2 linked regions of the Homo sapiens genome follow. The protein of the gene in region 1 purifies or fractionates together with the protein of each later gene. This does not show direct contact. Each region holds a gene or a part of one and is shown on either strand. Other genes may lie near its edges. The genes, in order: SYBU and ABAT.

The links.
Region 2: the proteins of SYBU (region 1) and ABAT purify together in Homo sapiens (affinity purification with mass spectrometry; one large-scale study listed by BioGRID and IntAct). This does not show direct contact.

What each region holds. Positions count from the first base shown.
Region 1 is NC_000008.11:109,638,012-109,641,833, forward strand, and holds part of SYBU (syntabulin), read right to left. Parts: intron 1-3,822. UniProt on the Homo sapiens protein: Part of a kinesin motor-adapter complex that is critical for the anterograde axonal transport of active zone components and contributes to activity-dependent presynaptic assembly during neuronal development.
Region 2 is NC_000016.10:8,681,117-8,684,938, reverse strand, and holds part of ABAT (4-aminobutyrate aminotransferase, mitochondrial isoform 1 precursor), read right to left. Parts: intron 1,681-3,822; exon of another isoform or gene 1,388-1,680; intron 1-1,387. UniProt on the Homo sapiens protein: Catalyzes the conversion of gamma-aminobutyrate and L-beta-aminoisobutyrate to succinate semialdehyde and methylmalonate semialdehyde, respectively. Can also convert delta-aminovalerate and beta-alanine.

The sequences.
Region 1 (3,822 bases):
TGCGTTAAGTCGCACACTTGCCTGTGTATCTGTGTGTGCACATTAGAAACATGAAAATAACTCAGATAAATTACTGTTCTCCCATAAAACAACTAGTCTTCTATCTGCATAATTTGTTCCACCTGCCATGTTTACAAGGCGCCCCAAGGAGAACTAGCTTAAAAGCCAGCAATCCATCTGCCTCTCAGTTCTAAGGGGGTAATTATTGCCTCAACTAAGCAAAGAGGAATGCACGGCATGCTGCTAACCATGTCAGGTGACTGATGTATGTGCCTGACACACTCACCTAGGTCATCGGCTTTTCTAACAGTGGCTAGGGTCATGGTACAGTAACAAACACAATTCACTACTTACAGAAAAGGGGGAGAAAAATGGATAGAGGCTACATTCAATGGGCCAAACCCAGAACACAAACCAACAATGTGGGCTTTATCACTTCTTGTGTTAAAAACAAGAAACATGGGGGAGAAAAGACAGGTTGACTTTATGCCAAAACGCTGGTTTAAACAAACAAACAAACAAACAAAAAACTTTTTTTTTAAAAGGGGACAGGAAAGGAGGTGTTTTGTTTCTATTAACTTCCTATTAACTGTACTTCCTTACGTATTTTTAAAATAAAGCATTAATTAATATTTATTAATAATGTACAATGTTCTACTTGCTGTGCACATAAAATAGGGCCTGACCTCTAATACTGTATAAACTTAACTGTCTCCAACTAAGGTCATAGCGACCAAGACTGAGTACAAACTGTGAGGAATACTGTTTGAAGACTAGAATGATGTCCAAGCACAAAAACACTCATGTGCTGATGAAATGCACAAAACACATGCAGATCTTCAAAGAAATTTCGCTAAGAAGAAGCGATTAAAAAAAACAAAGCTCTTTGGGGACACACCCCAAATGAATTGCAAAAGGTCACACACAACTTCTTCCCTCTGAAATGAGGCAGAGACAACATACAAATTAGCATATAGAATATCAAGTCATTAAATGTTCCTTGCCAAAGCTCCCATGGGAAAGCAAGAGGGAGGCAGTGGAGTGCGGAGGGAAAACAGAAAGTGGGTAAAAATGGACAGATCACTTTGGAAATAGTTCTATTCTTTTCATTTCACAGGCCGGTAAAATTATAAGAAAAACTTGAGGGTGGAGTAGAGAAAACATCAACATTGAGTTGACATTTGTTTTGCTGAAGTATAGCTACCATCCACTATCATGAATTTTTGTTTCATTACAAATGATAGAAAAGCCAGATTCTCAAAATAAAGTATAATTCTTTGTATTAAATAAATGTTTATAAATGTTTATGAAGCTCATTACATTATCTTTTTTAAAAAAGTAAAAATTTTAGAACATATGACGCTTTTCATAATTAATGCTTTTGATATAGATTTGAGGAAAGAGTCTCCAGTTTGCAGTTCTGAAAATGTAATTTTCAAATTAAATTTCATTGCATTTGAGGTGACACCTTCCTCTATAATTTCATTACCAGATTGTAAGAATTCCCTTAACTAGGCATGGCCCCTTTTACATGAGTGAATGTGATGATTTATAAAGAAGAGAAGCTAATACAGGAGGATTACTGGAAGGTTGCGAAGCTATGATGACAATAGATCCCTTTAAATTATTTTAGCTTTGTTCTAGTAAAGGATGGTATTTTTTAATATTTGTATGCACCTTGTTCTCTGACTTAACTGCCGTGATTAAACAACGAACACACCTTCTGGCCTCAGTGTTGGAGTGGCTGGATTAAAACGAGCGATTTCCCCCTGCTGGTTGGACATGTCTTACATTCTCTATCTCACTGCCTCCAGCGTTAACACTCCCTGTAGTACCAAACCCATTTATTTTCCACCCACCAACCGGCCTCCTAAAGCATCATTAACATGCCCCCAAAGGCCTTGCTGCTGTCAATTTTAGCCTACACAGCACTCAAAAGCCTTTGTGGGGTTTATCAGAGTTCTGTAGGAAAGGAAGAGAAAGGCATTAGACTCAAACCTTGGGGAACTGACAGCACAGGAAGATGAAGAGAGATGAGGGAGAGGCCCAGGAATGGAGGAAATCCTATCTGCAGGCAGGGTGCAAGGCTCAAGATTGAAAGGTTGTTCAGAGACACCCATAATTATATGCTTCTGCCACTCAATTTTCATCTAGTTAATAGCAAAAAGATCAATATCTACTTTCGATTTTCATGTACAGCATTATAGCCTTAGCCAGAGACAGGTCTCCTAGGAAGGAGGATGATTCAGGAAGTGGGTCCGGGGAAGAATGATTCATAACCAAAATCAATAATCATATTGGTTTGCCTTCATATATTCTAAAATATATTTGGGGTTTTCCTTTTTTTTGTTGTTGTTTTGAACAACTTTTTCTTTTTTTCTGATAACACTACTCACCCTGAAATCCCTCACAGAGGAATTGATTACAGGGAGAGAATACCAGGAATAAATGTGGAACTGAGTTATGTACACAAAGCTCTGTCAGTTTGAAATGACGTGCCCAGAGTTCATCCACACTCACCAGGGTGAGCTCTGGGCTCCAAAACAGAGTTAAAGTAAACAGCATTACATTCTGCAAATATGACTCTAGATTCTAGGAATACTAACTGTGATAGCTTCTCAGTTATCCTTTTGTTTTCTTCTTGGGGGAATAGTAGGCAAAGCAGCAGTGGGTTTCCATCTTAAACTAGATTCATGTGATTCAAATATAAAGAAATAAGTTTTAAAACATAATATTTTGATAGGGTTTTTTTTTTCAGAATCAAGCAGACAATTTGATTAGCAAATTGTTAGCAAAAAATTAGTTAGCAAAAAAAAAAAAAAAAAAAGTAGGCAGTGCAGAATTTCCAACATACAACTTATGCAGAGGACAGAATAACTTTGTGGAAGTATGTAATAAATCCAAAGCTGCATTTATAAAATCCTTGAAAAATGTAGCTGTGAGCCCTAAATGCAGTGGAATGTTAGGTCCTGCTAAATTAGAGCATTAATCATAGCATCCTGATTCATGTGTTTCTTCTCATACATGTGTTAATCTTCAAGTTCCATGTTCCCTAAATAAGTTCTAAAACATTATCCACTGTGAAACATTCTTCACTAGTCATAAGACAGTCACTCCTTTAAATTTTACCCAAATTCCTAATACTTCTCAAGTAACTCCTTCTAAGTCATGTGCTTCAATGGGAATAAAAAGCTCTGTCAAATGATAATGGTGGCACCTTCAGGAACTATCAAGAGATTTGTGCCCTTACCAAACATGCTCACAACTTTAAGGAAACTTTCTTAATCACGTGCCCAAACAGACATCCATAGTTCCTTGTATTAAGAACCATCATTTATTAAGCACTTCTGTAAGCCAGGTACCGTGTAAGGTGAACATTTAGGTACTGGTCTCATTCAACTTCACAGCCACTCTACAAGGCAAGTATTATAATCTCATTTTATGGATGTAACAACTAAGGCTTAAGGAGGTTAAGCAACTTGCTGAAGGTCACACAGTATGTAAGTGGTGAAAGGGCCAGGGATTCCAGCCCTTCAGGCTTGACAGATCACAAAGCCTGGGCTCTTCCCTACTAAACCATAAGGCCAGGCCAGCCTTAGGCTATAACTCTCCTTGATCTTGACCTCATTTATTAGGAATTGCTTTATCTTTGGGGAATTTTATAATTAGAGGTACACAGGCTTCTAGAAGTTGCTAGTATAAAATTCAATCCAATATTTTTTCTACATTTAACAAAGGAATGCATCTTTAAAAACAGTCATAGAATGGCAGTAATTAAAAGATCAGGAATGGACAGATGCTGGAGAGGATGTGGAGAAATAG
Region 2 (3,822 bases), on another chromosome or scaffold:
CAAATTCTGCCTTGTCCAACCATGTTTGCCTCTGTTTTGAATCTATTTAGACCTCCCTTTACTCTTTACATATTTGTGCTTTATTTGACTTTTCCTTTGAACTGGTTCTAATGTCTGCCTGGTTCCCTCATTGAATGAGCCTAATAAAATCATTGAGTGTTTTTGTATCTGTATGAGATTCATGATTTTACCCTCCACCTTTTTTTTTTTTTTTTTGAGACAGGATCTCACTCTGTTGTCCACGCTGGAGTGCAGTGGCATGATTATGGCTCAGTGCAGCCTGGCTCGGCCTCCTTGACTCAAGCGACCCTCCTGCCTCAGCCTCCTGAGTAGCTGGGACTACAGGTGCACATTACCACACCTGGCTAATTTTTAAAATTTTTTGTAGAGAAGGGGTCTTGAGGGGTCTTGCTATGTTGCCCAGGCTGGTCTCAAACTCCTGGGCTCAAGTAATCTTCCTGCCTCAGCTTCCTGAGTAGTTGGGACTACAAGCATGCATCACCATGCCCGGCTAATTTTAGTATTTTTTGTAGAGGCGGGGTTTGGCCATGTTGGCCAGGCTGGTCTTGAACTCCTGGGTTCAAGTGATCCACCCACCTCGGCCTCTCAAAGCGCTGGGATTGCAGGTGCGAGCCACCATACGCTGTCTATCCTTCCTTTTTCCCCTGCGATTTTCTTGGAACGGCTTCCTATGAACTCTCTGGGCCTGTTCATGATGCTCTCCCTGCACAGAGTCTCTTTCTCTTCTTTTCTGCCTTTTCCTCCTGAAATTTCTTCCCTAGAATCCCCAGGAACAGGGAGTGGTAACCTCTTTTTACTTTGAGCTTGAACCTGTATTCACTCCCACACACCTTCGGCACTCTCCTCACTGTGTGGTCCTTGTTTTGGGGCCTGTTTCCGCATGGCTAGTCTAGAAGAGGCGCTGGTGTAGTAGCTGAGTCTTTGTCTCTCCCTCCATCTCTCTCTCTCTCTCTGTCTCTCTCACACACACAGACACATAGACACGCACACACCCCTACTACTGTACACAGCACATGGAAATCATGCAATAAATGAACACACTCATTGACGAATGAATGCCAGATGGCTACGTCTGTCCACTCCAGATAAGCCATCAAAAGGGAGGCCTGGCTTTTCTTGTTCAATACTATAGATACCAGACAACCATGCCTGGAGTCTAGTAAGTACTCAATAAACACTGGTTGGATGAACAAAAGAATACAACTTAAGTTCTTGTTCTTGCATCACTTTCAAGTCATCTCCCCTTTCTCCAGTTTCAGAGGACAGACCTAAGTAGCTTCAGAATGCTCCCCCTACACCCCATATTTTCAGTATCATAGCAGCATTTCAGTTCTTTTCTCTCTCTCTCTCTCTCTTTTTTTTTTTTAGAAACAGGGTTCCACTATGTTGCCCAGGCTGGAGTGCAGTAGCTATTTACAGGCATAATTCCACTACCGATCAGCACAGGAGTTTTGACCTGCTCTGTTTCTGACCTGGGCTGGTTCACCCCTTCTTAGGCAAGCTGGTGGTCCTCCACTCCCAGGAGGTCACCATATTGATGCCGAACTAATGCAGACACCTGACTGGTATAGTACAGTACGGCCCAGAACTCCTGGGTTCAAGCAATCCTCTTGCCTCAGCCTCCCGAGTAGCTGGGACTACAGGCATGTGCCGCCCTGCTCAGTGGATACAGCATTTCAATCCTCTTGATCCCATTCCCTTTAAGGAGTGGAGAGTGATCTCCACTCTGCTTTCATGGTCATCGTGTGACCTTGGGCAAGGCACTGCTCCTCTGGGCTTCTGGTTTCCCACGGGTAAAGCGAGGCCAGTGTAGACATTTCAAGAGATAACGTCAGGCAAAGGTACAAATGGCCAGTAATGCCTGAAAGATGCTTCAGCTCAGGCACCAATTACATGGTAACAGATGCTGTCAATGTAACTTATCAGCAAAGCTATCCCTAGCTTAGCTCTGAGTGTGGGGTTTACAGATCTGTCTAAAATACGCTTCTCAAACTTAAAAGTGCACACAAATCACCCCAGGGGATATTGTTAAAACGCAGATTCACATTCTGTAGTTCTGGGTGGGGCCCAAGATTCTGCATTTCTAGCTAGCTCCTAGAAGATGCAATGCTGCTGGCCGCTGGACCACACTTTCAGTAGTAAGGTACTAGAATACAGTGGGTCCCACCTTTGAAGGAATTCTCAGTGCAGCCCAGGGACAGAGTGCTGGCAAGTTGCTGATATCCAAGATAATAGATGTTAGCACCTAAATGGGAGATGCTGGCAGTGAAGATTACGGGACCTCTGGACAAGGACAAGGTTGGCAGGGGTCGGGGGCTGGTCCAGGATTCCTAGAGAACATGGAAATAGAGTTGGGAGCATTCTGGCCGCCGGTGATTCTACTAAATCATAATTCTGGTGGGCAGGGGCATCAATCTGTGTTTTAACAAGCTCTTGAGGGGATTCTGATGCTAAAGTTTGAAAAACACTGTGCTAGACAGAGATAAAGGGGCAGGCTACTCTGGTTGGAAGAATAGCGTTCTGTTTTCCCACAGTGGAATTTGTAAATTGGATTCATTTATTCATCCATTCATTCACACATGTATCCATCAATCTAGCCAACCAACAAAGGGGTTGTGTCTGTCCATCCATGCATCCATCTACACCCCCAGCCATCCAACATCCAACAAATACATCCTGAATGCCTCCTCTGTGTGTGTGTGTGTGTGTGTGTGTGTGTGTGTGTGTGTGTATCCTGTTAGGCACAAGCAATCTGATTGAAATTATAGATATACACGGCTGTCTTAGCCTCTAACCGGTGATTCTCAACCAGGGGCAATCTTGTTCCCCAGGGGACACTTCATAATGCCTGGAGACATTTCTGGCTGTCACAACGTGGAGGAAGGTATGTTGCCAGCGTCTGGTGGGTGGAGGCCAAGAATGCTGCTAAACATCCGGCACAGGACAGCCTCGCTTCCACGTCAGTAGTATAGAGGTGGGCCAGGAGAGGTGGCTCAGCCTGTAATCCCAGCACTTTGGGAGGCCGAGGCGGGTGGATCACCTGAGGTCACAAGTTCAAGACCAGCCTGGCCAACATGGTGAAACCCTGTCTCCACTAAAAATACAAAAATTAGCTGAGTGTGGTGGCGGGTGCCTGTAATCCCAGCTACTCAGGATGCTGAGGCAGGAGAATCGCTTGAACCCGGGAGGCAGAAGTTGCAGTGAGCTGAGATTGCACCACTGCACCCCAGCCTGGGCAACAGAGCAAGACTCCATCTCAAAAAAAAAAAAAAAAAAGATAGCAGTCATTGGATTAGGGGCCACTCTAATGCAGAAAGACCTCATTTCAACCTAACTATTTCTGCAAAGTCTCTATTTCCAAATTAGGTCCTATTCATAGGTTCCAGGTAAACATGATCATGCCACTGCACTCCAGCCTGGGCAACAGAGCAAGACTCCCTCTCAAAAAAAAAAAAAAAAGTGTAGAGGCTGAGAAACTTTGCAGTAGACTGTGAGTTCCTGATAGGCAGGAACTGGTGGTATTCCCAGGATCACAAGATAGTGTGTGACCTACAGGAGCTGAGCAAATATTTAAGTGGATGAAGAAATAGTGACACAAAGAAACATTTATTTATATAAAGAACTCTGGGCCAGGCGAGGCAGTTCACACTTGTAATCCCAGCACTTTGGGAGGCCGAGGTGGGAGAATCGCTTGATCCTAGGAGTTCAAAACCAGCCTGGGCTACATAGGGAGACTCCATCTCAACAACAACAAAAAAATGCTTTTTAAAAAATTAGCCAGGTGTGGTGGCACCTGTTGTG